4 linked regions of the Homo sapiens genome follow. The protein of the gene in region 3 interacts with the protein of the main gene of each other region in a pairwise test. Each region holds a gene or a part of one and is shown on either strand. Other genes may lie near its edges. The genes, in order: ISLR2, NRG1, LAPTM4B and NAALADL2.

Region 1 (8,546 bases), on a different chromosome or scaffold from region 3:
GCCCAGGGCCCCAGCGCGCAGCCAGCGGAGTCAGCTGCACCCGCGCCTCGCGCTCCGCCACATCCAGCGCGATGACGCCCAGCTCGAAGACGTGCGGCTTGAGCTCTGCGCTCTGGTTGAACGCGTGGTTAGAAACGTACCGAGAGGGGTCCCCGTTGCCACAGCGCTGCTCCTCCGCCGGGTCCGCGAGGATCTGGTCTTCGGCCTCCTCTCCCTCACTTGTGTCCTCCTCCGGCTCCGTCTCGGTCTCCCCGAGAATGCTGACCTTGGCCAGGCCTTGGCCTTTGATTTTGCCCTCGGGTTTGGAAGGCAGGACGCTGTTGCCCCGGCCCTTGGCTGTGGACTTGCGCTCAGAGGTCGGGGCCTGTCCGTCGGGTTCTCCCCCGGCGCCAGGCGCGTGTTTTGGGGGCCCGGTTGCTGCCACCGCCACGCGTATTGACGTAGAGTTGGCGCCCAGCTCATTGTGTGCACGGCAAGTGTAGACGCCCGCCTCCTTGGCACTCAGGAGGGGCACCAACAGGGAGCCATTTGCGAGGGCCAGGAAGCGCGGTGTGGCTGGGGGCGCCGGCCAAGCGGGTGCTGGAGTCGGCGTTTGGGCTTGGGTCTGCGTCAGCAAATCCCCATCTCCTTCTCCCTCTCCTTCCTCCGCCCCAACCCCGTCGTCCTCCCCGCTCAGAACCGGTGGCTCTAAGACTACGGTGCCACCGGGGATCTGAAGTTGCCATTGCAGGCGAGGCGTAGGGTGGCCGTCGGCGATGCAGTGTAACACGAACGCCAGTCCTGCGCGCAGTGGGGTGCCGGGTGCTTCAAGCGGTGGCTCGGCACTCAGATGCACGCTGGGCGGTGCACAGGGCAGGGCGGGCAGGCGGTACACCGGCACCCCCTGCAGCGCGGGAGGCGAGGCACAAGCAATGGAGTCGGGCTCGGGTAAGGACACCCGGGTGCTCGCGGCCCAGGCCTGCAGCCACACAAGGCCGCAGCCGCAGTGGAAGGGATTGTGATAGAGTTGCAAGTGTGACAGCGCGCTAAGCGCGTCGAAGGTGCCAGGCGCCAGCGTACGCAGCCGGTTGTTGTTGATGCGCAGGGAACGCAGGTCGGGTAGCGCACCGAGTGCGTCCCGGGGCAGAGAGCCCAGGCGGTTGTGGTTCATTTTGAGCAGCTGCAGCGCGCTCAGGTTGCGCAGGTCGCTCCACGGAAAGCTGGATATGAAGTTGTGGCTCAGATCGAGGTTCTTGAGCTGACTCAGCACGGCCAGTGCGCCTGGCTCCACGGTGCGCACCTCATTGTGCGCCAGCCACAGCGACGTGACCTGTGTGACGTCGGCGAAGGCCCCGCGCCGCAGCACAGTGATCTTGTTCGCGGACAGACTAAGCGTCGTCACGTTGGCAGGCAGTCCTTCCGGCACCTCACGCAACTCTTTGTAAGCGCAGTCCGCGAACTGGTGAGCGTACTTGTCCACGCAGGCGCACGGCTCCGGGCATGATCCGGCCACTCCTAGAAGCGCCCAGACCAACCACAGGGCCCGAAGGGGGAACATCGCGGCTCCTGCAGATGGAAGCCAGGTGAAGAAGAAAGAAGGTGACTCACTGAACCCCAGCTTACCTCCCCTATCAAGCTGTGCCTCCGCAAGCCCGTTTAGCACTAGTTCCAGGGCTCCGGTAACCTCCTCTATGGCCAGGAGCCTCTCTGAAGTGAAGGTCAATAAAAATCTCGAGGTTCAACGGATGCTCCCTCCCAGGGCCCTAATTTCCTTTTCCAGCGGCCCGGTATATCGCCCTTTTTTCTCTTCCTACTCCTTCCTTCACGCTGGAGCTGGCCCCTCCGTGGGCTCCGCAGCTCGCCCATCTCCAGCGGGCTCCTCACGTACCCCTCTCTGTGTTTCTAAGCCTTCGTTTAACCTGGTGAAATGGATCCTACCCAAGAAGGACATTTTTGTCCGTGACTGGCTGTCCTCCCTGGAACCTTTGTCCCACGCACAGCACTCGCACACACGCCCATGCAGGCACACAACAATACAAACAGACGCGGGGCTTCATAATCAAACCGCCAACTTCTGCAGGGGTTTAGAGGACCTGATGCTCAATTAGGAGGCTCACAACACATTTCCTAAACTCACAAACACATATGCACCCAGACATGGACACAATAGACCCTGCAGACCTCATTGTTCTCTTAACCAGCATTTGTACGTGTTTTCCACCACGGTACAAAGCGCTTTCCTGTCCATTGTGACAATTGACAGACACAAGGACACAAGTCCTCACACGAACCGACCCACCCACAAGAACACAGGCATGTGCCTGTGTGTGCATACAGCCCTCCACTGTGACCGAAACCCAGCAGAGAAGCAATAGGAGGACCTGCACTGCACGACTTGAGATGTGGGATCTGGGGAAGCCCATCCCCATGCCCTACTGCATCTAAGGCCAAAGTCACCTGCCCGGGGCTGCAGCTCCTGTGAGGGGAGAAGAAGGGCTGCTCTGCCAACCTTCCTTACGGGGAAGGAGGTTCTCCCCCATGTTTGGACCAGGTGTGTTGGGAAAGCGGTCACTAGAGCTTCCTCTCAGGTCCCTCAGGCGGCTCCCATTGGGCAGAGGCGTCCTCAGCCAACAGGTCATGGGGCTGCCACTAGCTAATGAAGCTGGAGAAGATGAAAGATTCTGCGCCTTTCTCCACAGCTCTGCGGTGCCTAAGGACCCCCTCCCCATAACACCTTAAGCCCGGTCACACAAACGAACTTGCACAGACTCCCTGCCCCCATTTGGAGCGCCTGTCAGGTTTGGCAGAGCCCCTCCCACAACTTGTCTTTGGGAACCTGCTCCTTCACTCTGCCTTTGCTCTTCTGGGAGGGTCCCTTCCCTCCCTTCCCGGTTCCTGCCAGACAGCACCCCCACCAGCCCCGCACCCCATCAGGTGCCCTAGGCTGGACCTAACCCCACCTGGGTCAAGGTTGTGGGGTGGCCCCCATTGCTTACCCAATATTCGCCGACTCTCAGTAAATGTCCTGGGGCTGAAACCCCTTCTCCAGACCCGGCGTGGCAGAGCAGGGAAGATAGCCCAAGCAAGATACACGCATGTGTTGTGGCTGTGGGGAAAACGGGGGGCGGGGGGCAAAGAAAGGGACAGGTAAGTTTGGGGACTTGGTGGCCCCAAAGTACCACTTCAATTTTTCCTTTTGCGTCCGTTTCCCCCACCTCTCTGGCTGCAGGTTGGAGAAAGTCCTTGCGCACTCCCGGGCCTGGCGGGGACGCGCATAGCCTCTCCCGCCTCCTGCTTGGTCTACTTTTGTTAAAGCCACGGAGACCCTCCCCAAGGCCAAGACACGTCGGTCATAAGGGGCATCCCACGCCCACTGTCCTGGCTGGGCTCTTCGCAGCCTACTGCACCCCCATAACCCACGTACCCCCACATTTACACAGCCGCTGGCATTGTTACTGTCCCTGATCACACCACCTCCCCCACCCCACGTTCAAACACATTCGCGCACACAGTCCCTCACACCCTCCCCATAGCCGACCTTCACAGTTTACAATCATCCATGGTCAGGTAATAATCGCATCAATGTGTTCAGCCCCTGCTACATTCACACGCATTTTCACGGGCACACCTGCACCCGGGACACTTACCGTTCTCCTCTCGCACACGCATACACACATTCACGCGAACTCACCCTCACGCGCCTGTCCCGCCAGCGCCCGCGAGCTTCGCTGCTAATTGAATGCAAGCCGCTTTTACGCCCTGCAACACGTGAGACAAACCATCTTTGAGGAATTTGGGGGAAGGAAAGGCGCGCGGCTGAAGTGGGGGGGGAAGGCGTGTCTTTGCCTTTAAACTCTTTTTGCAAATGCAGGCGGTGGCACCGACAGACTTCGAGCGGGACCCGCTGAGCTGCGCGCAGCCGAGCTCGCGCGGACCCTTCCCTCCCGCACCCCCCGCTGCTAGCCGCCTCCTCCCCGAAGCCACGTTCAACATGATGCATAATTGATAGTGTTAGCAGAGCGCCGCACCCTCCCTACCATTTTTGCCTGGATCTGGGCTGATATAAGCCCTAGTCTCCCCCGCCCCGCCGCCCCAACCCCCCCGCCCCGCCTGCTAGTCTAACCCGACACCAGAACGCACAGCCCTGCAGGGCGTGCTGGGAAGGGACACCCCCCTCCCCAGCCCACCGCAGCCCTGCCCAGCCTCTTAAGCCGGAACTCTTTACTTCTGGTCTTTTGTGGCTAAACCAGCGCTTGAAGCCCACTGCCCGACGCGTTGGCCTGCGCGCACCGCGGGACAGGTGGAGCAGGGGGAAGCTCTCTCGAGCGCACCCAAGCACCTCACTCCAGGTCTTGCCTGCTCCAGGAGAACGGGGCACGGAAGCTGCAGCAGACAGTAGCACAGACAAGGATGGTGGCAAAACGTCCGCTACTCTTGAGCACGGTGGGCTGGGGACTTCAGGCCCGAGCATTTCTCCCATATCTGCCCCCCATATCTTCACAGCCTCTCAAGCAGACACACGGTCAACCCCACACGCACTATCCCCCAAGCCGCGGTGGCCCCTCACCGCCCCGCCGTCTCACACCCTCACACAACAGCCGGCTTCGGCAGACTCGCTGTTCCCGACTGTCGCTCCCTAGCTCTGATGAAACCCCGACATTTCTTTCAGCGACGAGGAGGCGGAGGCGCGGCGATGTCGAGGCATTTGGCTAAAACCCGGTTTCCGCCCCCCTGCGCTGCCCACGTTAGCCCTGGAGACAGCTACCGGCCATAACCAGGAAAGGGGTTCAGGCTCCGGGAGACACGCAGAATCCCCACCCATTCTGTAGCCACTGAGCTCTCTGGGAGCACCAAGCCCCACAGCCATCACCCCGGGCCATGGGGGTCTCTCGATGGCGAGGGTTTGGGGCTTCCGTGGAGATCAATACCCCGATTTGAGTGTTGAGCATCTTAATGAGCTAGGGGAGGGGGTGGGGAAGAGAGACAGGCTAAGAGCGCAGCGTCTAAAGAGACCACCCGGCCCGGGGTTCCGAGGCTGCTTTGTAAATTAAATATGAACAGACTGGTGCGCTCACACTCCAAGCGTCCCTCCCTCTCCCCTACTCCTGCCGTCGCTACGGGCGGCCCAGCGGGCTGAGACCATCGCATCTTGCTCAGCCCCAGTTCAGAACACAGAACTTCACACCGCCTGCTCGGGCCTGGAGTCCCCCCCCGCCGACCCATGGGGAGGGCGCAAGGCGCCTTTCAGGGAAGGTGTCTTCGAAAATGGTCGAGGGGTGAGAGCACTGTGACCCGTCCCTGCCGGGGATCCTGTGGTGGGACAGCCAGGATTGGGTCCCTAGCCCGGGGTGAGTCCCTGAGGTTTCTAGGCCTTGTGGGGTCGGGAGAAGGAGGCAGACGGCGGGGCCAGCACACCCTTCTTTGTCTGCCGAACAAGGTGGGGGTGGGGGCGGGGAGCGGCGTCTTGGGCAGTTGTCCGGGTGTTGGGAACCCTGAGGGGGCGGTCTTGGGAGCCTGTGCCTGGGAAGGATATTTGGAGGCAGGGGCCCAGCAGCGGGAGCTGAGTCCGGTCCGGCATGGCGTGTCCAGGGGACTTTTCGGGACTGAGTGAGGGGCGCCAGGCGGGGAGGCTCAAGGCCCTCCGCCGGTTTTTACCTATTTTCTTTCTTTCTTTTTTGCCTTCCGCAGGGAGGCAGAATCTGGGTAATGGAAGGGAGAATGGGCTCGCTATCTGCCCAGAGCTTCCCTGGACTGCAGGAACCCGTCCTATAAGCAACCCCGAAACTTCGGGGCCCGAGGACCAGGGAAGACCCCCTTTCCTTGCTGTCTTGACAGGGTTGCAGAAGCCAAGGAGTTCGGCAGGGAGACGGGGCTCCTGGGGTGGTTAAGGACGCGGTGACCACCCCTGGGCGGGAGCTGACTCCCGCGGGCCCGGAGGCTCTAGCTCACTCTACAGCAAATGCTTTTGTTCCCGGAGGCTGCCCTGGGGGAAAGACGCCCCTTACCCCTGCCTTCGACCCTGGAGAGCCCAGTGCCCGCCCGGGCAGGGCTGGAGCCCGAGTCGCCCCAGGCAGAGTCCGCCGAGGCCTGGGGTGGGAGCCGCGACTTCTGGATCTGCCTCCGAGCTCAGCTAGAAGACTGCGCGCACCTCGTCCGGCGCCGTCCGGCGCGCAGAAGCGGGTCTAATGTTTATAACGTTAATAATGACAGTTAGGGAGGGCTGTGGAGCCGGGAACCAAGACCTCATCCCGCCGCCGCCCACGTCTTTGATCATTAAAGAAACAGACAACTAATCAGGTGTGTGGAAGTAGGGGTGGGGGAGGGGAGGGTGACAAGGTTCCAAGCCGCTAGCGCAGAGGGTCCCAGATTCAGAATCTGCCGAATCCAGACTAAGGCTTCTAACCAGGCTGGAGCCGACCCCAGACAGACCCAGGAATGGAGAGCTGGAGCCCCTGGCCGCTTTCTGCGGATCGACCCTTAACTTCAACGTCGCGAACCCGGAGCGTCGGGAGGGTGGGGAGGGTTGAAACCGGTTGGATCTGGGGACTTGCTCCAGCGACTCCATCCGCGCTGTTCTAGGGCCCAAGCCTGGTCCGCGCGCGCCCCCTGCTGGAAGCCGCTTGCCGGGCGCAGAGGCGGGTCAACGGCAGAGGGTGCTGGCTGGGCGAGGAAGATGTGGCTGGAACCCTGCACCAAGGCGACCGCTGCTCACGGCTCTGCAGTCCCGCGGCGCGATACGCCAGTGGGGCGCGCTTAACCAAAGTCCCGAGGCTTTACTTCCCGTGCCCACCCAGTCTATGTCCCAGGTATCAGCAACCTCTGGTCCACTACACAACACAGGCGCTGTCCCTACTTCGCGCTGCGTAGTTTCCAGTGCCCAGGGCGTCTCCTAATTCTTGAGCGACTAGTCCCTGGCACAAAACCTTCCTATACACCTCTCCCACTCTCCCTTCTCTCTGAGTCTTATGACTTTGTCAGGGGCCTATTAAAATAAATGTCTGAGATCTGGAAAAAAAAATCTGTTGGCGCTAACAGGGGCAAAGAAAACTGCAAAATTGGAAGTAATCGATGTTTGATTGAATGTTTAAGACATGCGACATTGTGCAAACGATTCTGTTGCAACTGCACTCAGAGTTGTACTTGCCCTTGTATTTTAATGTGGCACGCGGAGGATTTAATGGACTTGCCTAAAGATGTGGGAAGGGCCTCTGAGAATAAGAAAGCCGGGGCCCAGATGGGCATCAAACATCCCCAGCATAGCAGCCGGTTAAGGCTGCGGAGACCTTCCCCAAGGCTGCCCTCCAGTCAGAAGCCCCTGAACACTCACTACTTCCCATCTTTCAGCTTCTGCGCGCACAGACACACACACACACACACACACACACACACACACACACACACACACACACACACACAAATGTTCTCTCCAGCCCCACACCCTCAAGAAGCTGCTTTCCTTTTCTAATTTCCAGTCGAAAGATCACTCCTCAGGGAAGCCAGGCCCTGTTTATACTCCCTCCTCCGGCCTTTCCTTGTACAGGTTCTATGTAGTCGTCAGGCGGGCAGGTCCTAGCGTCAGACTCCATTATGTACTGACTGTGTGTCCTTAGCCAAGCTATTTAACCTCTCTGTGCCTCAAGAAAAAAAGGCATAAATAAGAGTACTGACCAGGCGCGGTGGCTCACACCTGTAATAATCCCAGCACTTTGGGAGGCCCAGGCGGGCGGATCACAAGGTCAGGAGTTCGAGACCAGCCTGACCAACATGGTGAAACCTCGTCTCTGCTAAAAATACAAAAATTAGCCGGGCGTGGTGGTGCATGCCTGTAATCCCAGCTACTCAGGAGGCTGAGGCAGGAGAATCTCGGGAGGCAGAGGTTGCAGTGAGCCGAGATAGTGCCACTGCATTCCGGCCTGGGCGACAGAGCGAGACTCTGTCTCAAAAAAAAAAAAAAAAAAAAAAAAATACCTATGCTTTTCGGTCACCTTGAGGATTAAATGAATCAATGTACGCAAAGCACTTAGTACCTGACACTTAGTGCTCAGTACTTGAGATACGTTTTTTATATAATAGCTGAATTAGCCATTATTATTGCCTTGCAGAGTGGGACACAAGTTTGATAAAAGGTTCTGCTGCACACACCCCTACAGGCTTGTGTCCTGCCTCCTCCACAGGGGAGCACCTTGGCTCTGCCCCCAGACCTCTTCACCACCACCACCCCCTTTGCACACACACACACCATGGGTATATGTAGAAACCAGATTTACTATTATTATTTGTAAAGGTTTCTAGTTTCAGATACTTAGACTGATGCTTGTCAGCATGCCTGTTTGCAAAGAGAGACCCGCAACTGCAGACTTGGTGGAAGGTTTTTAATTAAAACTACATTCTGTTTAAGTATTTATTGGACTTTGTGACTTTAATTATTTTCTAGGGAAAAACAAAAAAATCCACATTTGCCTATGAGAAGACTGTTGATTTCAGAGGAAAGTAGCAACCTGTTGCAGTTTGCTGGAGGCAACTGAGAGGAATTTTCTGAATGGTTCAAATGAAGCTCGACATTATTA
Region 2 (7,908 bases), about 65 Mb from region 3:
ATAAAATAAAATAAAATAAAATAAAATAAAATAAAATAAAATTCAGCGGACTTGCAAACAAACAGGTAATAGCTTACCTCTGATTTCATAAATTCCACAAAGTTCTAAAATATCATTTTGAAGGAAAGGCCCTTGCAAAAGTAAGCAACAGGCCTTCAAGCCCAGAATGTGTTATTTTATTGGAAGTAACTTCCCAGTCCAAGAGTGGAAAGACTCTATCAAAGTCATCTCCTCCCATGTAACTACCACATAAGTATGGATTTGACATTATGTAAACCTTTTAGTAAATGGTCAAAGATTAGCCTGAGATGACAATAAAATAAAGTAAAACCCAGCAGACTTGCAAACAAATAGGAACAGGTAACAGCTTACTGATGGGCTAGAAATACTGGTCATCTTCCAGCTCAGGTGAAAATGGAGAAAGAGAATCTATGAATTCAATATTACTATTTAATATCTCTTTGTTTACTTTCCTCCATTCTTCATTTTACCTTTGCTATAACTCCCCCAACCCAACCCAATCTCCCCAAAGGAAAGCCAAAACATTCTGGAATAAAGGGCCATCTTGAAGGCAGTATCTGCTTTGAAAACCACCCGTGAAGACTGCCAGACGCAGCATCCAAGAGATTTATTTATTCATCCCTTCTTGGAATTTCATAAAATAGATACTATAGGGTGGAGGGCAAGCAGTTGCCCCCCATGACATTCAGCAATGACATAGCCCTTGATTTGACTTAACTGAGGCTGGAAGGTAAGACAGGGTTAGCAGATAAGAACACGAGGCCAGCTCGACCACCGAATCAGAGTTTGGATAACTGGCAATTGGAATTATAGAAGGGTCCTTATCAAGCATTGATGCCATCTCTCTAATGTTACAACTGAGGACACTGAGACCCCGAGTGGGTCTGAGCCCATGGCCAGAGCTGGAAACTCCATGTGCTGCACCTTCCGCATCAAAGCATCCCAGCTCTTTAAGAGTCTGTTGCCTGTCAGTCACTGGGACGACGAGAGAAGCTCAGAAGAAATAAGTTCCGTCAAACAAAGAGATGACTTCATCAACTAGGAGCACTCCTAGAACAGGTAACTGCCGCCCCTTATTCTGATTAGAGTAGATTTCCTGAGGTGAGACCGCAGGTGCTCACAGGGATTCTCTGACTGAGTTTCTCCTCTGCAGTAGCTTTGCCCTTCGGTTTTACCTTTCACTATGAGGAGAGTCTCGGTAGGAATCAGGGGTTTCTCTGGCATGCCTGAGGAAGCTGTTACATTCACGAGGGCCTCCTGTGCCATTAAGACGTCCTCTTGGGCCCCCAGTTGGGCTGCTGTGCCTACTGTTTTCTACGGATGACATCACGATTACAGAGTGGCTTTCGGAAAGGATGCTTTCAGTGTGTCCGTTGCTCCAGCTGCGGAGGAAATGGGAGAGACAATCAGATATTTCGTGCAAAAATTATATGCAAAAAAATGGAAATGAAAGGAATGGATTCTGACAAATGTTTCAAACTACTGATGCACCCGGAGCTCACTGTAACATCACTTGTCTCCGAATAGAATCGCCACAAAGGTAATTTGCTATAGAGAGGATCTTGATTCAGATTGGCTTTGTAAGGATACAGTATATTCACTTGTCCACTCATTCAATAAATATTTTCGAATGCCACTCCTCAGTATATAATTATAATCTCTCTGTTCTTGAGTGGCTTAGATTAAAGAAACATTTCCTTGTATGAGCTACATTTGGAGATCTAGTGTTGGTCTTGGTAGAGTAAGTGCACTCAGGTGGGGATCACCAGGGCATTTGAGAATTTAGGGTTCCACTATTTAACCAATTCTCATGTGCATTTCCCAGGGCAATCCAATTACTGAAAGAAATTGACTTCTAAGTATTTTGCAGAGCCAAAGACAGACTTGTCCCAGTGTAGCAATTCGGTGAGTAGCAGGGCATGAGTAAAGACAATCTCAGGAATGGGAAACAACGGCCCTGTGGAGTTACCTAATTGAGGTTCAAATTTATGCAGGAATTAAGGGCAAAGCCAGTTGATTTTCAAAATCTGTTGCTGCCCAAAGACCATCCATTTCACTGCCTCCTTTCTTAGGCAGGGATATCAAAAGGCAATGTGCAACAATTCATTCTGAGAGAAAAGCCGTGGAATTTTTAAATTCTCATACCTGTGGCTAGGAGTCTGGGTGACAGTAGTGGAGTGATGGGCTGTGGAAGTATAGTGACTGGTGGAAAAGGATGTCTCTGCTTCTCTCTCAACAATATGCTCACTGGAGATGACGTTTTTAGATACGTATTGCTGGATAAACAAAGAGACACAACTTGAAGATTCACGTAGATTCATGTCAATCAAAGCACTAATATTGTCATGTAAATAAAAACGTTAACACTGTCAGAAACACACAAATCTATTTTTGTACAGCTGATTTGTAATAAATTCCATTTCCCCAATGGCCAGGTGGAAAATCCTGTCCTGGCTACTGTGGCTTTTAGATTAGATGAATAGAGTTAAAAAAAAAAATACTCTCTGGATGTGCATCCAATGTACGGCCCATCATTCCAACTACATTTTATCAGCAAAAGTCCTATTTCTTCTATTTTATTTTAAATTAATGACTAGAATTCCATACAAATATCCATCCAACATTCATTTGTTTCATGGTATTGCAAGGTGAAGAAGGCTAAATGCTATTTGAAATAGAAGCAGACAGGTGATTTGTATAGTTTCAAATTTCAAAGCACTAGAAAAAAATATTCAGAATCTCTATATGTTGGGCCTACCTTTCTCCTTCCATTTCCTAGTGCCCATGTTGCCCTACTAATGTCACTGAAATGTTTAACTTGTTAGCAGTGGTAGGGCTAACAAGGCTACTGATAAGGGACTTAACAATTGTTGTCAATGCACACATCTTGACAAAGCACATAATATATGGAGGACATTTCTATTTAATGCAGGTAGATTCTACTTTTCTCTCTTCTTTCTTTCTTTTCTTTTCTTCTCCTTTTTTTTTTTTTTTTTTTTTTTTTTTGAGATGGAGTCTCACTCTGTTGCCCAGGCTGGAGAGCAGTGGTGCAATCTCAGCTCACTGCAACCTCCACCTCCCGGTTCAAGCAATTCTCCTGCCTCACCCTCCCGAGTAGTTGGGATTACAGGCATATGCCACCATGCCCAGCTAATTTTTGTATTTTTAGCAGAGATGGGGTTTCACCATGTTGGCCAGGCTGGTCTTAAACTCCTGACCTCAGGTGATCCGTCCACCTCTGCCTCCCAAAGTGCTGGCATTACAGGTGTGAGCCACCATGCCTAGTCAGAGTCTACTTTATTTTTATCAGCAAACCACAGTAGTTTTTACTGTTTCTATTAGGGAGGGAGGCCCCTTTTTGAAGTTGTGTTTTAATTGCTGTTAGTATTTATACCAAATTGAGTTAAATAATAGGAAAACCAATAGAAAGGAATACTCTTTGATGAAATAAGGCACTTTATAATCTGACGGTCTGCGGGCTCTAAATATATTCAGGGAGATCCAAAAATATACAGCTTGAATTATGCTTGAAACTCTAGCTGGTTCTCTTAGTGGAAAGGCTATTCCATGTGGATCTTCCTGGGAAGTACAGCTAGCTTGATTTAAGGAAAGGATACACAGTGACCTACTTCCAGTCCCTGAACCATTTCACTATTGCTTTTTGGAAGGCAACATAAGCTCAGTGAATCTAATGAAAAAAATACTTAACAATTATTGAACACTCACTAAATGCCACTAGACTAAGTGTTTTATGCAAATTACCTTATTTAAGGCTCACAAGGAGTCTCTGAAGTAGGTATTATTTTTAGGTCTGTTTTTATATTGAAGAAATAAGGTTGAGAAAAGTTAAAGCCCAAAGATGCACAATGTGAGCAGTAAATGTAATCTAGGCAGTCATTCTACCGTTTATATATTATAACATGCAGAGTGACAGATTATAGTTCCTTTTGTAGTGAATATCGTTATCAAATGTGGAGAACATTGTGATGAACACTGTTAGAGGGTGAAAAGGCAACAGAGTGTGTTAACCTATAAGCACCTTGCTCCAACAAAGTTTTGAAGGTTTTTGCTACAAGACTTGCTGATAGTTTAGTAACCACCAACTCTGTAGTTGGGTCTATGATATATCTGTTCCATTCAAAATATGCCTTTTTCTATAGGATAGAAAATGGTACTACAATATAAGCTTCAAGCTTTGTGTATTAAAAAAACCATACATCAGAGCAATAATTTGAAAATAAGAAGGATGATGCTGGAATATAAAGAGCAATACTCCAAAAGCCAAGAGATGGTGCGGCTCTGGCCCTTATCTGTAAAAAGAAAAAGAGAGATTTGAAAGATAATATCTTCAAACTCTCCAGAACCTAATATTCTATGATCTAGTTGTATTTAAAAAACTGAATGCTGAGTGTTTGGTACAGTATGAAAAAAATATTTTAATGATTATGGATATATTTCATCTGGAGGGCTTGACATCATTTAGAAAGGGCCAGGGAAGAAGCTGGCATGACACTCTTCTTTTGCTACTGAGAAGGGTGTTTGATAAGTCACTTGACCTTTCCACGCCCTAAAGGAAATCAGAATCCTTTGGAAATCATAACCAGTAAATCATCAGGCACTGTGAATTGCCCTAAGAAAATAACTCTAAAGCTCTTTGCTCGGTTATCTGTACTAATCAGTTACAGAATGGAGTAGCCTGTATTTCCAAGTTATATATGAAAACATTCTTTTTGATTATCGTACTATTAAATTTGTTTTCTCCCCACTCTCTCCACGCAAGCCCCAGCTATGGCCTCCTTGCAGAACAAACCCAACACTATTATTCCAACCCCTTAATGAACACTTTATAAGAGGAAATGTGCTGATTTTACAGTAACCAAATCCACTTTTAAAAATGTTCCCATTATTTTCTCCTGGCAAAAACCTGGATTCCTGGAAGCCATGGTGATTAATGGCAGCAGCTAAAAGCTTAAGAGCTTTCGAAAATAAACTTCAAGGCGTCTGAACAAAGGAGAGAGGCTCAGTTTTTTCCACTGGCCAGAGTCAACGTACATTCACCAGCTGGACATTCTCGGGGGGTGGGTTAGGATGGTGAGGCCCATTGGCAATGTTCATCATATTGTTTCGTTCAGACCGAAGGCTCTGCCGAAGACGGTCATGCAGCTTTTTCCGCTGTTTCCTGGACATAAGAAAGGGAGCATTTATTTTTTTTTGATTATTTTCATTTCATAGTAGAGCCAAGTCTTTATTCTACCAACACCTATGAGTAGTTCAAGGCAGTAGACTGGTGATGAGGAAGAGGGAAGGGAGTATGTCCACTGTATCCCAGAATAAGTGAAACCACACATCCTTACCAAACAGATTTTAAAAGCCACCTGGGATTCTTATGGAAATTTAGCTGTTTTACTGAGAGACAAGAAAAAAATAGGATAACACAAATAACTTGATAATTGACTAAAATCACAAATTTCCTAATCAATCCATCTTTGCCTAAGTCTTACAAATGGACACTTATTTGTCTTAGATAATAATTTGTGCTGGGCTGGGTGGGGTGGCTCATTCCTGTAAGCTTAGCACTTTCGGAGGCAAAGGCAAGAGAATTAATTGAGTCCAAGAGTTTGAGACTAGCCTGGGCAACATGGAGAAGTCCTGTCTCTACAAAAAATACAAAAATTAGCCGGGCTGGTGGCGTGCACCTGTCGTCCCAGCTACTCGGGAGGCTGAGGCATGAGCATCACTTGAACCAGGGAGGGGGAGGTTGCAGTGAGCTGAGATTGTGCTACTGCATTCTAGCCTGGGTGAAAGAGCCAGATTCTGTCTAAAAAAAAAAAATGTGCTGTAGAATTTATAAGAGTGATTTCATTTATAGCTTTTCCTGGGGTCTCTTAAGAAAATGAACTGAGTTTTGAATATACACAGTTAGCATGTTTGTGAGTGTATCCCATGTATACGCGTGAGAATGTGGACATATTTTGCCAGCGGATTTTGGCACAATCGTAACATGTTCCTACTCTGGTAACGCTTTTTGTGCAATTAGGCAGCGAATATTGAGATGGAATCTAATGAGACTCACCAGGTCGACTCCAGGAAGGCTTATCTCTATCCCTTAATTCTGGCAACACACTAAATCATGGGATATTGACAAAATACAATCCATGCTTTGGATTTTGTGGCATAAAAGCATATTATTTTTCTTCCTCAATGCAACATTCAGATTATGAAATATTCCCATGGATGGTTTGGCAACAGAGTATCGTGCAGCAACATTTTTTCAAAAACCTTGTTAATTTAACATATTAGGCTTGAAATGTAAGTTATATGTAGGAGAGAAAAGTGAAGAGAATCCATGTCACATAGTAATTGAATTTGTTAATACGGACCAAACTTCAAGACCAAACATAGGGAACCCAAATCTATTCTAATGTTTTCTCTCTTATGTTTTCAAAGAAAGTTTTGCTTCATTTTCCTCCCCTGAGATTCCTTTTTTACATCTCAGGCTGTGAGAGCATTCATACTGGCAACCTAATTAGATAGAATTTAAAAATAATAATAATAATCACTATAACTCAGAAAACTGCATTTCAGATACCACGAAAGGTTTCCTTTATCTCGTAATTTTCAGTGTAAATTGGATTTGTTCTCAGTAGTCCTTTGAACTGAAGGTACTACTGCACCCTGAATGCAGTCAGTCTCTAACTCATAGAAGTTTTTCTAGGTGCAAGTTAGTTTCTTTTGGGGATAACTTAATTATACTAAAGCCCTCAAATGGACTTCTGGTACCCTCCCTCTCCTTTTAGAATGAGGTGCCTTCATTCTGTCCCACCCACACACATACCTTCCATACAAGCCTGTCCCTCCAGGCCTTTATCCACTCAGGGGCTGTGGTCATTGAACAGAAATCTTTACATGAATAGGCAAACAGCTTTCTATTTCTGTGTTTAGGAGACATCCTCAAAATGGATTATTCAGAGGAAATAATCTCCCCCTGCCCCTCCTTTTTTTTTTATCCCCAAGACTAGGCTGTGGAGCTCAGATTCTGCAAAGCCCTGGCCATCTAAGCTGTCTCTGCATGAAGGAGAGAGAAAGGCATGGAGAAAGAAGGTTTACTTGGTTTTGCAGTAGGCCACCACACACATGATGCCGACCACAAGGAGGGCGATGCAGATGCCGGTTATGGTCAGCACTCTCTTCTGGTACAGCTCCTCCGCCTCTGGAAAGGGATGAGAGCAGATGTCATCACAGGTCACTTCCACTTGCCAGGACTGACTACAACCAAACAGTGGGCATGCTGCATGACATTGTCCATGTTCACAAGAAAATAAATACATGACAATTCTTTACGTTTACACACATAGCTAAGGTACAACATGCTCTGCACTATGCTTTGAACATAAATATAAAAAAGCCAGCTGGGGCCATTTACAATACAAATATTATACTCAGAAATTACTTCTAATTATAAGCTATAGAGATATATATAGTTGATAGTAAATTGGAAATCATAAACATTAATTATAAAATAACTATTTGGTTAAAACTCTGTAGTTTTATTTTTTTTTGTAGTCTCTTGCAAAATAAAATATAAAAAGCTCTTGCAAAGACAACAGGAATCAACACCAATTAAAGGAGATGGAATTGGCATCACTGGGCGCCCCCCACTTCCTCCTTCCTCCCCTCTTTATCCCCCAGCCCCTGGCCTTTTTGTATTTCCCAGATATTTTATATCATCACTTTATATCCAGTGGTCTTTACAAAGAGTCATTTCTAACTTAAATATATTAAATTCAAAGACATTTGCAAACATGAACTTGGCTTGTAGTTAACTAGTAAATTGAGTCAGGCTCTCTGTGATTTAACAGTAAAATGTGAACACAAGAAGCAATACAA
Region 3 (7,908 bases):
TAACTCAACAACTCTCATTCAGTCTCCAAAAGCTCTACTAAGAGTCTCAAGAACTGGGAGGAGGAAAAGGAGAGTTGCTAGGGCTCACACATTATTTCCACTAGCATTCCTTTGACCAATGACAAATCAGCCCAAAAGGTGGTGGGGCAGAATGGGACAACTGTGGCCTCTTCCTTCAGGGCCAAGATTCAAAGTTAAATTGACAAAACAAATATATTACTCATTCAAACATAATACACATTGTACGACAAAACTCATGTTAACTTAATACTTTATGCTAAGTTACTGAGAAAATAACTTTTATCTGAGGGATGCAAGTCTTTATTATCAGGCCCAGAGAGACATTAAAACGATACAGCAATCACTTTCTACTCCCCCTCCCTTTTGAGCTATGTCTTCAACTGTTGAAACTGATTGCTATTGCCACAAGCAGCTGCAAATTAACCTAATAATGCATAGCTCAACAATGGATAGCCAATCACGAACCAATGTTGTTTCTGTAAATCAAGGACAATTCCTGACAAACAACTTTGTATCAGTACACTCCCTGTTCCCCCTTTCAGTCTTTAAAAATGCACTTATAACTGCTGCTAATCTGTGTGTACAGTCAGGGCAACGTCAGTCTATATTCTGGGGTTGCAATCCTCAAGCCTGGCCCAAATAAACTCTCTACTTACATTAATTTTGCCTCAGCTTCTTCCTTTTAGGTCGAAGTTAAATATATTTAAAGTGAATCCGAGAGTGATTGGTATTAATAAACAGTTTTGATAGCAATCTTTATTTATTGGCCACCTTGTCTGTAAAACATTCTAATGAACATTTACCATAAAAGTGTGATAAGAGGCTCAGGCCTGCAATCCCAGCACTTTGGGAGGCGGGCGGATCACCTGAGGTCAAGAGTTCTAGACCAGCCTGGTCAACATGGTGAAACCCCATCTCTACTAAATTAAGCCAGGCGTGGTGGCCTGCGCCTGTAATCCCATGTACTCGGGAGGCTGAGGCAAGAGAAGGGCTTGAACCCGGGAGGTGGAGGTTGCAGGGAACCGAGATGGCACCACTGCACTCCATCATGGGTGACAGAATGAAACTGCCTCAAAAAAAAAAAAAGTGTGATAAAAGCTTAAAAAGATATTGAATACCACTGAAATCTCCACCAACCAATGTTCTATAGAACTGCCCTTGATCCTTTATTAGATGAGGGGAAACCTGTACTTTAAAAATCCAATGTCCTTCCCTATCTAAATCTGTTCAATTCCTTAAATCAGATGGAGAAAACCTAGGTAGAAAGAGAGACTTGTATCACTCACTAACTGGTAAAAATTCCTATCCATCTTATTCATACCACTAAGAGCTGATACCCACTATAGTTTGTATCTAGAGAGCTATATATAACATACTGCCTGGTTTTCCAGCCATCTGAAACAGCCTGCCATTTTAATCTAACTTAAAAACTGCTTTCATTGGCCAGGCGTGGTGGCTCATGCCTGTAATCCCAACACTTTGGGAGGCTGAGGTGGGCAGATCACGAAGTCAGGAGATTGAGATCATCCTGGCTACCACGTTGAAACCTCATCTCTATTAAAAATAAAAAAATCAGCGGGGTGTGGTGGTGGGCGCCTGTAGTCCCAGCTACTCGAGAGGCTGAGGCAGGAGAATGGCTTGAACCCGGGAGGCAGAGCTTGCAGTGAGTGGAGATCCCACCACTGCACTCCAGCCTGGGTGACAGAGCGAGACTCCGTCTCAAAAAACAAAACAAAACAAAAACAACAACCAAAAAAAACTGCTTTCATCATATCGCTCCTGTTCATAATTCTTCAATGGTTCCCCACTGCCTACAGAATAAAATCCAAACTCTTTAGCCTACTATTTAGTCTTTTACAATCTAACATAGTGGGGAAAACACCAGGCAATAAAGATGACACAATTGCCACAAATCAGTCCGTTATTCTATCCTGAAATTACGGGCCAAGTCACAGAATCTGACAGTTGGAAAGAAGCTATTAATCTTAAAAGAACATATCACCACCTATCATGCGTGACCCAGGGTTGCTTTGAGGTCTAAATAAGAACAAATGTGAATGCCCACCGAAAGCTATCAATCACTCTACAAATACAGGATGTTGGTCTTACTATCCTGTACTCAGACAAATCAATAGTTGTTGAACTTCTCAGAATACAAAGAAAATCTATCAGGCTTGTGAAGGGGTGAAGAAAATTCTCCCCCTTCTACAACTTCTGAAGGTTTGATCATTTGAGTCTAATAAACAAACTGATAATAGATCAACAGCAAGAAACGGCATACAAATGTATTACGTGCACACGCATACGTGGGAGTCACAGAAATAAGAAAACTCAAAGGAAGGGCCAGATGGTTTAAGTTTTAATGTCTTTCTGAAGTTACAGAAAGAATAGGGGTTTAGATCACGGCAAAACAGGTTATGGGAGGGAGGGACGGAAAGGCCTGGCTAGGGAAGGTGGTCTTGTTATGCAAATGAGACCCCACAGGTAGAAGGCTTGAGAAAAGATACTTGGTAGCCTGTGGTATGTGGTAAACTTCTCTATTAGACCTTCAAAGGTGTCAGACTCTCAATCTCTCGGTTAATCTTTCCAAGGTCTGAACATGGGGGATGGGGTGGGGAGGTGTGCTCAGAGAAAGCCTGGCTGTTTATTTCACTAATGCAGATTTTCCCTAAAGATGCAAATCTCCACAAACAGCAGCTTTTCAGAGCTATTCTTGTTTGCAGTTTCTCTAATACTATCTTGAAATATACCAAAGAGGTATATTTTGGGTGAGATATTCTGGTTTCCTTTACTTGAGTAAACAAGGAAACTGTGAGTTTCTATGTGAACAAGTGGATTCTTTGAAAGACCAGGTCTGCACTTGTATCCCAGAACTTAAAGTATAATTAAAAAACAAAAGAAAAAGAAAGAAAGAAAATTAAAAAGAAAGACCAGGTCATAAAGCCAATGAAGCAGCTACTCTGACCTCTTTTATCCTTTATAATCTGATATATGGCTAACTACCCTGTGAACAGTGTCTGGCACAGAGGCATTTGGTATGTATTTGCTGTGTCTAAGTTCCTAAAAAATAACTGAACAAGGATATTTAAAAAAAAAAAAAAAAAAAGGCCGGGCGCGGTGGCTCACACTTGTAATCCCAACACTTTGGGAGGCCAAGGCGGGCAGATCACCTGAGGTCGGGAGTTTGAGACCAGCTTGACTAACATGGAGAAACCCCGTCTCTACTAAAAAATAAATAAATAAATAAATAAATAAATAAATAAATAAATAAAATACAAAATTAGCCAGGTATGGTGGTGCATGCCTGCAATCCCAGCTACTTTGGAGGCTGAAGCAGGAGAATCACTTGAACCCAAGAGGCGGAGGCTGCAGTGAGCCGAGACTGCACCACTGCACTCCAGCCTGGGCAACAAGAGCGAGACTCCGTCTCAGAAAAAAAAAAAGGCTGGGGACGGTGGCTCACGCCCGTAATCCCAGCACTTTGGGAGGCCGAAGCAGGTGGATCAGGAGGTCAGGAGTTCGAGACAAGCCTGACCAACATGGTGAAACCCCGTCTCTACCAAAAATAAAAAATTAGCCAGGGATGGTGGCGCATGCCTGTAGTACCAGCTACTCAGGAGACTGAGGCAGGAGAATCGCTTGAACCCGGGAGGCAGACGTTGCAGTGAGCTGAGACTGCGCCACTGCACTCCAGCCTGGACAACAGAGTGAGGCTCTGTCTCAAAAACAAAAGCCTGGAGTGGTGTGGAGTGGTGGTGTGAGCCTGTAGTCCCAGCTACTTGGGAGGCTGAAATGGCAAGGCTGCTTGAGCCAGGGAAGACAAGGCTGCATTGAGCCACTCCAGCCTGGGCAATAGAGTGAGATCTTGTCACAAAAAAAAAAAAAAAAAAAAAAAAAAAGCTGGGCATGGTGGCTCAGGCCTGTAATCCCAGCACTTTGGGAGGCTGAGGGGAGCAGATCACCAGAGGTCGGGAGTTCGAGACCAGCCTGACCAACATGGAGAAATCCTGTTATCTACTAAAAATACAAAATTAAACAGGTGTGGTGGCGCATGCCTGTAATCCCAGCTACTAGGGAGGCTGAGGCAGGAGAATTGCTTGAACCTGGGAGTCGGAGGTTGCGGTGAGCCGAGATCGCACCATTGCACTCCAGCCTGGGCAACAAGAGCTAAACTCTGTCTCAAAAAAAAAAAAAAAAGTCCCCAAAGTCTTGTGCAAGAATGTTCAGTGCAGCTTTATTTATAATAGCCCCAAATTGGAAATAACCCAAATGTCCAATATCTGGCAAATGGATAAACAAATTGTGGTATATTAATACAATAAAAACAATACTCAGCAATAAAAAGCAACACTCCAAGAAGATGAATGAATCTAAAAGAAGTTATGCTAAGTGAAAGAAGCTAGATACAGAAGGGTACACACAGCATAATTCCATTTTACATGAATAAGCAAAACTTACCTACAGTGATTGGGGATATGGCAGGGATTAACTGGGAAACAGCACAAGGGAACTTGCTGAAAGTTTGGAAATGTTCTCAAGGAATGTGGGTTACATTACAGAGGCATTTGTCAACTCAATAAACTACATTTAACTGTGAATTTTGCCGGGCACGGTGGCTCACGCCTGTAATCCCAGCACTGTGGGAGGCCGAGGCGGGCGGATCACCTGAGGTCAGGAGTTCAAGACCAGCCTGGCCAACATAATGAAACCCTGTCTCTACTAGGAAAACAAAAATTAGCCAAGCGCAGTGGTGGGTGCCTGTAATACCAGCTACTTGGGAGGCTGAGGCAGGAATCACTTGAACCCAGGAGGCGAAGGTTGCAGTGAGCTGAGATTGCACCACTGCACTTCGGCCTGAGCAATAAGAGCAAAACTCCTCAAAAAAAAAAAAAAAAAAAAAGGCCGGGCACAGTGGCTCACGCCTGTAATCTCAGCACTTTGGGAGGCCAAGGCGGATGGATCACAAGGTCAGGAGTTCAAGACCAGCCTGAACAACATGGGGAAACCCCATCTCTACTAAAAATACAAAAATTAGCCCGGAGCTCACCTGTAATCCCAGCTACTCAGGAGGCTGAGCAGGAGAATCGCTTGAACCCAGGAGGCGGAGGTTGTGGTGAGCCGAGATCACGCCACTGCACTCCAGCCTGGGCGTCAGAGCGAGACTCGGTCTCAAAAAAAAAAAATTGTAGTACATAAATCACAACTCAATAAAAGAAAAAAAAAGAGACAAACAAAAAATGATCTCTAGAATAAATACCTGAAGTCTCCCAAAGTTAGCGTGGCCCAGAATTTTAAAAATAGTAATAATAATAATAAATACCTGAAGTCAATATACTTTACTTCAGGACTGAAGGAAAACTTTTATTATTCCAAGACAAAACCAAAACACATGCACAACTTTTAAAAGTAAAACAGTGGAAACAGAACAGATTAAAACATCACTCAGATCATAAACCAACCATGGGATTTTAAGCTCTCAAGTAAATCACCAAAGTTCTCTAAGCCTCAGTTTTCTCATCTGTAAAATGGGAATAAGAAAATCTACCTCACCAGGAATATGTAAAAATTAACCTTATGCAAAGTATCTAGTAAAGTACATGACACTTGGAGCCTTAGTAAACGGTATTGGTAGGAATCAACAATAAGAAAACATATAAAAAAGATCCACTTTACCTATCTTGCAAAACAGGAAATTACTTAAATGAGCCCTTATTGTGGACTCTTACTTTTTGTTTTATTTATTTATTTATTTTGAGACAGAGTTTCGCTTTTGTTGCCCAAGCTGGAGTGCAATCGCACGATCTCAGCTCACTGCAACCTCCGCCTCCTGGGTTCAAATGATTCTTCTCTCAGCTTCCCAAGTAGCTGGGGTTACAGGCACGTGCCACCACGCCCCACTAATTTTTTATATTTTTAATAGAAACAGGGTTTCATCATGTTAGCCAGGCTGGTCTCAAAACTCCTGACCTCAGGTGATCCACCCGCCTCAGTCTCCGAAAGTGCTGGGATTACAGGTATGAGCCACCGTACCCGGCCTGGACTCTTATTTAAATATCTGCCTTGTCTGAAAACTCTCCGCTTTATTATTATTATTCTTTATTTTACTTTTCTTTTTTTTTTTTTTTTTTGAGACAGAGTCTCACTCTGTTGCCCAAGCTGGAGTGCAGTGGCGTGATCTCGGCTCACGGCAACCTCTGCCACCTGGGTTCAAGGGATTCTCCTGCCTCTGCCTCCCCAGCAGCTGAGATTACAGGTGCCTGCCACTGCGCCCGACTAATTTTGTAGTTTTAGTAGAGATGAGGTTTCACCACCTTGGCCAGACTGGTTTTGAACTCCTGACCTCAAGATCCACTCACCTCGGCCTCCCAAAGTGCTGGGATTATAGGCGTGAGCCACCCACACCCAACTTTTTTTTTTTTTTTTTTAGATAAGAGTCTTGCTGTCACCCAGGCTGGACTTTCCACCTCCAGAGTTCAAGCAATTCTCATGCCTCAGCCTCCTGAGTAGCTGGGATTACAGGCGCATGCCACCACGACCGAATAATTTTTGTATTTTTATTAGAGACGGGATCTTGCCATGTTGCCCAGGCTGGTCTAGAACTCCTGACCTCAAGTGATCCGCCTACCTCGGCCGCCCAAAGTGCTTACAGGCGTGAGCCTCTGCACCAGGCCTCTTTCTCTTTTTTTTTCTTTTTTTGAGACAGAGTCTCACTGTCACCCAGGCTAGAGTGCAGTGGCACAATCTTGGCTCACTGCAACCTATGCCTCCCAGGTTCAAGCAATTCTCCTGCCTCAGTCTCCCAAGTAGCTGGGATTATAGGCCTACACCACCGCACCTAATTTGTACTTTTAGTAGAGATGGGGTTTTACCACACTGGCCATGGTTGGTCAGGCTGGTCTCGAACTCCTGACCTCCAATGATCTGCCCGCCTCAGCCTCCCAAAATGCTGGGATTACAAGCGTGAGCCACCGCACTTGGCCTCTGTTAAGAGACAGTGCTCACTCTGGTTGCCCAGGCTGGAGTGTAGGGGTGCAATCACAGCTCACTGCAGCTTCGAACTCCTGGGACTCAAGCTGGGACTACAGGTGTGAGCCACCACACCTGGCTAATTCTTAACTCTCCACTTTCTGATAATTGACTCCATTCCATCCAGATGGCTGGCTGAGAGAAAGGGTTAGGACAAACCAGGGAAGGTGCCTCGTTTTACAGTGGTCCTGCTCCCTAGCCACACAAACTCTCTTAAAAAAGTTCAAGAAAATCAAAGTTTTGGACAACCAAATTGTTGTAACCGAGCAACTTATAGAGAAACCACACTCTGAGACGAATTCAGGAGTCCTTTATTAGCCGGCGACCCAGAGACGGCTAGTGCTCAAAATTCTCTTGGCCCTAAAGAAGGGGCTAGATTTTCTTTTATACTTTTGTTCAGAAAGGGGAGGGGGAGAGTCTAGTTAAAACAAAGTAGGCAAAAAGTTAAAAGGACAAATGGTTACAGGAAAGTAAACAGTTCCAGGTGCAGGGGCTTTAAATCTATCACAAGGTGACAGACGCGGGGCTTTGGGTGTTATCAACCGGACACAAACGCGGGGGCTCTGGGTACTATTAACCGGGCGAATTCCTGGGAACTGCGGATATAGCTTGCCACAGTATCTTATCAGTTAATTGCATTCTTGGATGTGCTGGGAGTCAGCTTGCACAAGTTAAGTCCTTGAGGAAGCGGGTGGGTAAGGGGCTGCAAGTGAAGGAGCCAAGATGGAGTCTTGTCTGGCTCTTAGCTAAGGGAGAGTCAATTCAGGTTAAAACAAGGTAGGGTATCACAAAATTATATTCAAAGGTCTGAGTGAAAATCACTACTTTAAAAAAAAAAAAGAAAGAAAAGAAAAAGGCTTA
Region 4 (7,908 bases), on a different chromosome or scaffold from region 3:
CCTGGGCCTGGCACAGTGGCTCATGCCTGTAATCCTAGCACTTTGTGAGGCCAAGGCAGGTGGATCACCTGAGGTCGGGAGTTCCAGTTCGAGACCAGCCTGACCAACATGGAGAAACCCCGTCTCCACTAAAAATACAAAATTAGCCGGGTGTGGTGGCACATGCCTGTAATCCCAGCTACTCGGGAGGCTGAGCCAGGAGAATCGCTTGAACCTGGGAGGCAGAGGTTGCAGTGAGTTGAGATCGTGCCATTGCACTCCAGCCTGGGCAACAAGAGCGAAACTCCATCTCAAAAAACAAACAAACAAACAAACAAAAACTTCGAAGTTCACATTTCTGTGTTGGTGAGACAGTAGCTTCATCTTACCATCCAGAAAACAAAAGTTTAAGTACTACAGTTCCATTCCACTTCTCTAGCTCACTGATATTGTTATCTATAACAGCAATCATTCAGAGCCAAATGCATATAGCTCTGCCTTTTGCCATAACACTGATAAGTTTGCTTTTGTTTGAAAATATTCAAAATAAAAGAGAAAGACCAAGTTTTTCCAGCTGTGAGAAAATAGGCATCTGATTGTAGGTTATCCAAGGATTCCATGCAGTGTTTGTATTTTTGTCTCTTTGAGACTTTCTGAGAAAATATTTGATACAGTGCTCAGATTTCATACGTTAAGGCACTACATATTGATATTTTACACACAAAGACAAGCAATGCTTTTCTGGTCCAACTCAACATGATTAATCGTTCTGCATTCAAGAATAAAACATTTCATTTGTAATTTTTTTGAGCTTTCACTTTTAATTAAACATAGGATCAGGGCATTATGTATATTTTATTTTTATTCATACTGGCCTAGGCATTTTCTTCCCTAATGATTCGTATTTGTCTTGTTAAAGAGAAGACAGAAAGATTATATTTAGATAATGTGATAAATATAATAAAAGTTTGTTCTTTCAAATCTTGATATATTGTTCTGATGTTCTGGTAGTTTCTTAATTTCTCCCATTTAAATGTGTCGACTTTTTACAGGACAATAAGAGCTAACATTGATAGAGTACTAACTGTCAGGTGCTTTACATGGTTTATATCATTTCTTCCCCACAAAAAACGTTAAAGTTACTGTTACTATTCCCCTTATATGGATGAGAACACTGAGTCGTACAGAATTGACCTGACCACCCCACATTTGCACACCTATTAAGAAAGGATGCTAGTCTGGGCTGTTGAACTATGCTCTCTGCAGAATAGGGTAGTGACACATATCTTCATAATAATGTAGCTTCTGCACAGTTAGTGAGTTTTTGAAAATAAGTTTCTCCATAAAACTGCATTACTTGGCTTATCTTTCAGATAAAAAAATGAAGCTTTACAGAATGAAAAGATACAAAATCCATAAAATGTATGGAAATAAGAAAAAAATCTCTTGCTCAGCAACAACTTGGCAGAACCAATCTGACCAATGTATAGCAAATATTAATATGTGATTTGCTTTTCTACATCTGCTGGTGTTTCACAAAGGACAAAAGAAATAATTGCATAGAAATTGCATAAAAGCCATATGTTCTATTAATAAAATTGACTAGACATTTTCAGCACTCACCACCAATGTCTTTAACCTTATGATAATATTATAGTTGATATTTACCTTTTAAGAAAAATACAAATCACTGTTTATTCCCTGAAGCTAACCTTACACATGCTAAATTATTTATGTATCCATTTTAATATGTATTTTGCATCTGACAGGACAACTCTCCTTAGGACCCTTTTACTGACCCACCTGTCATTATGATGGGGTAAACTATGTCACCTTTCTAGTGCACGATGAATTACAAAGAAGTTGTAAAGTACACCATCCATCATGCTGGCACTAAGTAGGTTTTTGAAGTAGATCTCAGATATCAGAAATGCTGTTTAGACGGTTACCAGAAAGCACAAATTGGAAGCTTACACAAAACGGTCCTATGATGAATGGACATGACAGCTCTTCCAAGAAAAGGGGCACTCCTCTTCTGCAAATAACCTTGTCAAAAGCAAAAAGTTGTGGGAAGCTTTGCTGGCAGTCAGACTAGAATAATTTAAGAACTTGTTAATGGCTCTGCAAGACAGAAATTCATGCAAACACAATGTACTCAAAATCAAAAAAAGAGGCATGCCTGAATCTTTAGCAGCAACCACTCAAGCTTGATTTGAATTAGGGAATGATTTAAAGTGATACAGAAAAATCACCAGCGCCTTATCTATTAGAACATGTGAGTTTCAATAATATATCTAAAACAGGCATATAAAATATGTGCAGGTATTGTATATGCATATATAATAGCCACCTAGAAATTGCTTTTGAAAATTATAATACTGATATAATCTGAGTTTTAAGAAATGAGTATCAATAGCATGTGCTTTCTTGATATAGATATTTAAATCAATATGTATTTAGTATAATAGATTTGCATTATTAATACAATCTTAAAATAGTGTCTTTATCTAATTTGCATAATTAATTTCTCAAATTATGTTCTTCAAATACAAGGTGTAAGGTTTATCCGTATTGCATTTTGTTTCCTTTAACAATCCCTTTTGTTTAGCCCTAATATTTCAAACATGGAGTATATTTCTACATCTACAGTTAACTTTATTTTCTCCCTTTTAACAGCTGCATTTTAAAAGTTTTTTTAAACTCTTCTTTATTTTAAAAAAGGCAGTTTTAATACACTTACAAATGGTGTCAGGATACTAAATAAGGACTTAGAACTATGCATATTTGGATAACTCCAGAAATCTGCAGTAGAGGTTGATTTTATTTTATGTGAAACAAAAGGAAATTTAAAAACTTAAAACTGTTAAGATAAACATGTAGAAAACTCTCAGAGATATGGTTACACAGGAATATTTTAAAAAAAACACCCCACCCAGTTTCATTAGCAAAATGAAAAAAATAATTAACTTTTTAAAAAATAAATGAGTACTCTTTGATAGTAAACAGATAAAACCACTGGTTGGTTCTCTTAAGTTTTTCATTTTTAAATTGGCTCTTTCAATACAAAGTCAAATCCTTAGACATAGGCGTGCATTGCCTTAACTGTGAAAGATGGAGACATACAAGAAAGTGTTACTGAACCCTATCTTATCCCAATTGTCCCATATGCTGTAATAGAAATTGTCATACAACATGCCCAGAAAAACAACACAAAAGGCCATTGTTATAGATACATACACACGTGCATTAGTTTGAAAGTTAAAATATAGTGTTTTTAAGTAAACCGGCTTCTTCTTTTGTGTCCTCTATTGACAAGAAAAAGTAAGTGAAAAAGAAAAAAAATAAAGAAGAGGAAAGAACCACATATATTTGGATAAGAAAAACAACTGTTTCATTTAAAGGGATCTAAAAAGACAGCTACCGAACATATCGAACATATAACCAAAATGCTGAGAATACAACTCCCTTATAACTTATAATTCTAAATGGGAGAGAGGCTGGGGGTGGAGAACACCATCGGTATCCTGCGAATTCACATTTCTAGTTTCTAAGGTCTGATGATTTGAAATTGTCAAGGAAATAAAAATGGTGCTCAAGTAAAATTTATGGAGGCTAACTTAGCCTCCACAAACAATGACTGCTAAATTTGAAAAAGATATTAAAATACTTTAGGCCTGAATATATTTTAATTTTAATCAAATCATAATTATAGGGTCCCTATAAACTAATCAATCAGTGGCTGCTTGGAATTTGGTGTGGCCTAAAAACATCTAGAAGAAAGGGAATAGGCTCAGTTTTTAAAAGTAAGAAGGTTGAAGCTATAGAATTTTGCAAATTCACATTTTTAACTTATTTCTTAAAATATTAAACCTCTCTACATATTAGTAATATTACATATATTTTAAACTAAAAAATTATTTTACATTAAAAATGAGATGACATTCAGTTGTGTGAAGGAGTCTAACAATGGACACTACATAGCCAAACATTTATTACTCTTACACACTACTTGAACGCAGGACACTTGAAGGTGAGGCTATCTAATTGCAGAAGTGTGAAAGAATAAAGAAAATAAAGGGCGAAGAATATTTATATATCCATCCTACAGCATCATCTGTTAGAATAAAAGGGATGATTAACATTTTTGTGATTCAGCCTAGACTTTTACAAAATATAAAAAGCAAACATACAATTACGTACAATACTCTGTGTCCAATATCTGCACAAATATCACAGGAAAGTGGATTTGCCCAATAGTGGAACTCTAGGGCCCAACAGATTCTTCCAAATGACCTTCTCCCTGACTTTCTTCCCTCCACCACCACCTCCATTATTATGAGAGTTTGCTGGTAGTGAGTATGAATCAGAAATTAGAAGTATACAATATCTGTTAATATACCCACCCCCGCTTTTTCTTCTTTTTTTTTTTTTTTTTTTGAGAAGGAGTTTCACTCTTGTTGCCCAGGTTGCAGTGCAATGGGGCAATCTTGGCTGACTGCAACCTCCCCTCCTGGGCTCCAGTGATTCTCCTGCCTCAGCCTCAGGAGTAGCTGGGATTACAGGAGCCTGCCACCGGGCCCGGTTAATTTTTTGTATTTTTTTAGTAGAGACAGGGTTTCACTGTGTTGGTCAGGCTAGTCTCGAACTCCTAACCTCAGGTGATCCACCCGCCTCGGCCTCCAATGTGCTGGGATTACGGCCTCCCCAAAGTGCTGCTATTACAGGCATGAGCCACAGTGCCCGGCCAGTATTCCTTTTAAACCAAGGCAAACAAATTGTTATTGAAGGGTTCATCTCCCATGTTTCCCTTATTATGCAGTAAGTCCGGAGTATAAAGGAGTCATAGAAATTTAATTTTCCAGATCCAGTGAATCTCCCCATTATACAGTAAGACCAACAAATACATGCTCCCATAAGGGCCTCGGAGAAGCTGCACAGTGATAGGATATCTCTTTCCTTGGTCAGTGTGGAAACTGTACAATATGAAAGTGCACGGGCATTGAGGGAGGGTTTTTGTGGTGAACCCGTATCTAAGGAACTTATTTAAATAAATTAGTTGATTTAACCTTATTCTACCTTCAATCCACTGGGCCAGCGGGTTATTACAGAGGGCCATGCTAAGGAAATAAGGATACAAGTTGTAGTTTCATGAGTTTTGCGTATCTCCTTCTTCAAGGAATAATCAATGTTCACCAGCGGAAATTGAAAAGCAAAGAGATGGGGAAGATTCCAAGGATCCACTCAAGTTCCTGGTGTTTTTGTGAATGTTCTGTGTTTAAGACATGCTTTTGTTTAGGAGAAGACATGAGCTGAGCCAACTGGGATAAAGAAGAGGTTGAAAATGCGTATGGCTTAGACAGAGTAAAGAGTTTTAGATAAAATATCGGGGTAACTTTTAGAGTCTTGGCTTAAGGCCAAAGCTTCTGAATCAAGGAAAGAGTGACAGTTGCCTTCCTCTATTTTTATTAATATACAGGTGTGTTACCATTATTACCTGCCAGAAAGAGCATAATATTAATCCAATCAAATTATATGAGTCCTACAGTAGAAATATTGCAGACATTTAATATTATATTGAAGTTTAATTAATGGTAAGACATTTCAAGGTGGTAATAGTTATATGCAGCTCTTTGGCTAAAAGTCAAAGTGTGATATATACAGAATAGAAACGATGCTGGACTGCCAGAAAATCTGCCTCTCCCTCCCACTCCCCCAAGATCTATTAGGAACGAGCATTTACTGTTATTATTTCAAATATTTATGCAAAGTAATTTTAAATGATTTAAACATTCCATATATCAATCAAAGTTAATAATAAGTTAGATTCTGAAACATTTGTGCCATTAACAACAGTCAGAAAGATAACATTATTTCATTGGTATTAAATGAGGCAATCAACAGTTTGATGGAAAAAAAAAAAAAACTAAGTGTATTTTTTAAAATTACACTTTTACATAGAGTTAGAAAACTAGTCCATAGAAAGGAAACTGTTGACCAATTACACGTTGTTATATCTAACTTGTATATTGTTCTTACTATAGGCTATGCTCTGTCCTCCTAGATTTACATATATTTGTAATTTTTTCTCACAACAACCTTATGAGTTGGAACTATTATTGACTCCAATACAGAGATGAGGAAATCAGCCCGTTTCCTCCCAACGGTTAAGTAACAGTGGTTAACTGGGGAGCTGAGATTTAAAACTAGTCCATGTGGCTCTAGAAGCCTTGCACTTAACCACAATGCCAAAAAAAAAAACTGCATCATAAATCTGCTGACCCAGAAAAGGTGAAGAACTAATACACACCTGGCTTATCACATGTGTTTTCCATCATGAAAGTAGGGGCGCTGTGTTTCAAATCTTAAATGTGTTAATAATCATATCAATTTTCCACTTAATTTCTTTTGTGTGTGCACAATCTCAAAACACAACCCTCTCCATTTCTTTCCCTTTCTCTATATCAGTGTATTAAATTTTGCCTCTCCAAAGCTGTAGAATGAAATAGACTTGCACTATATGGACAGAGCAAAATGTGAATGACTCAGTCACACATTCAACACCTTTGAATTAAATTTTTCTAACATGTTTTCACTTTCAAAATATGACAAGAAAAGGGTCAGGAGGGCCACATCTTCCTTCTCTTTCCTGGCACTTCCACACTGAAAAGATTTAATGGTTACTTTTGTATGTTGCATCTTGACAGTTAGTTCAATTTAGATGAAAGCTGTTATTTTCTAATTCCATCTCACTGTAAATGACAGAGACAAATGGTCATATTACCTTGAGAGTTCCTTTGGCAGAATAGGCTGCATATGAATAGAGCAGGTCTTGGCTGCTATCTTTTCTGGCTTCTTCACTGCAAGGCTGGCCATTAGGATGAAAGCATTGACCACTGCTGCTCAGAGTCACAGTGCTGGGAGAAGGGCCTGGCAGATCAAGCAGCACAGAGTAATTTACAAACTGTACATCTTCTAGGCCCAAAGAGGTCCACTGAGTCTTAATCTTCTTTGAAATTTCCATGTCATCTTCATTTTTATATAGTTGTACCAAATTTCTGAAATAAATTTGAAAAGAAAACTTTTTTAAAAAGGAGAATACTTTATTCTTTTGAGATATGACTGCTCAATATATGAACAATATTAATAGATGTTGTGGAATATTGAAAGATGAATGAGACAGGACCCTATCACATGAAACATAAACACAAAACAAAGTGGAATGAATTAGTTTCTTAAATTAAGAACTGACGGCCCTTGTGGTAGCTCATGCCTGTGATCCCAGAACTTTAGGATGCTAAGGAGGGAGGATCGCTTAAGCACAGGACTAGCCAGGGCAACATAGCGACAACCTCTGTCTACAAAACATTAAAAAATAAATTAGCCTGATGTCCTGGTATGCATCTGTGGTCCCACCTACTTGGGACACTGAGGTGGGATGATCACTTGAGCCTGGGAGTCGGAGGCTGCAGTGAGCTAGGATGGAACTATTGCATACCAGCTTTGTCAACAGAGTGAGACTCTCTCCAAAGAAAAACAAACAAATAAAACAAAACAAAACAAAAAAACCCACTAATACAGCACTATGGCATTGCAGAGAAGAGTGATATTAATGCTAACTAAATCTTCTATTAGTTCTGATCCTTCTATCAACATCAACATAATACACTTAAAAGTCCATTCCAAAATCTAGGTGTCATTCCAGTTGAGACATTTCTTTGTTATAGTTAAGGTGATTTCATTTAAAACAATATGATTGACATATAGTTATTGCTATTTAAAATAATACAGAGAGAGCTGTTTAGATACAAATTTTATGCCAAATTACATGATGCTATGAGCACAATGTTTTCCAATAAAACCGAAACAAAAACAGAGATTGCCAAACCAATGGGAAATTAATGTTGTGTTGTACTTTCTGTACTTTGTATA

Evidence for each region.
Region 1: the proteins of LAPTM4B (region 3) and ISLR2 interact in binary tests that used the Homo sapiens proteins (3 or more experiments, as listed by UniProt).
Region 2: the proteins of LAPTM4B (region 3) and NRG1 interact in binary tests that used the Homo sapiens proteins (3 or more experiments, as listed by UniProt).
Region 4: the proteins of LAPTM4B (region 3) and NAALADL2 interact in binary tests that used the Homo sapiens proteins (3 or more experiments, as listed by UniProt).

The regions. Positions count from the first base shown.
Region 1 is NC_000015.10:74,125,746-74,134,291, reverse strand, and holds the start of ISLR2 (immunoglobulin superfamily containing leucine-rich repeat protein 2 precursor), read right to left. Parts: upstream 3,707-8,546; 5' UTR 3,671-3,706; exon of another isoform or gene 3,518-3,670; intron 3,477-3,517; exon of another isoform or gene 3,195-3,476; intron 3,086-3,194; 5' UTR 2,976-3,085; intron 1,546-2,975; 5' UTR 1,538-1,545; coding exon 1-1,537. UniProt on the Homo sapiens protein: Required for axon extension during neural development.
Region 2 is NC_000008.11:32,753,695-32,761,602, reverse strand, and holds part of NRG1 (pro-neuregulin-1, membrane-bound isoform isoform HRG-alpha proprotein), read right to left. Parts: intron 7,232-7,908; coding exon 7,129-7,231; intron 5,201-7,128; coding exon 5,074-5,200; intron 2,298-5,073; coding exon 2,167-2,297; intron 1,404-2,166; coding exon 1,197-1,403; coding exon of another isoform or gene 1,193-1,196; exon of another isoform or gene 1-1,192. UniProt on the Homo sapiens protein: Direct ligand for ERBB3 and ERBB4 tyrosine kinase receptors. Concomitantly recruits ERBB1 and ERBB2 coreceptors, resulting in ligand-stimulated tyrosine phosphorylation and activation of the ERBB receptors.
Region 3 is NC_000008.11:97,778,292-97,786,199, reverse strand, and holds part of LAPTM4B (lysosomal-associated transmembrane protein 4B), read right to left. Parts: intron 1-7,908. UniProt on the Homo sapiens protein: Required for optimal lysosomal function. Blocks EGF-stimulated EGFR intraluminal sorting and degradation.
Region 4 is NC_000003.12:175,233,057-175,240,964, reverse strand, and holds part of NAALADL2 (inactive N-acetylated-alpha-linked acidic dipeptidase-like protein 2), read right to left. Parts: intron 7,035-7,908; coding exon 6,761-7,034; intron 5,874-6,760; exon of another isoform or gene 5,156-5,873; intron 1-5,155. UniProt on the Homo sapiens protein: May be catalytically inactive.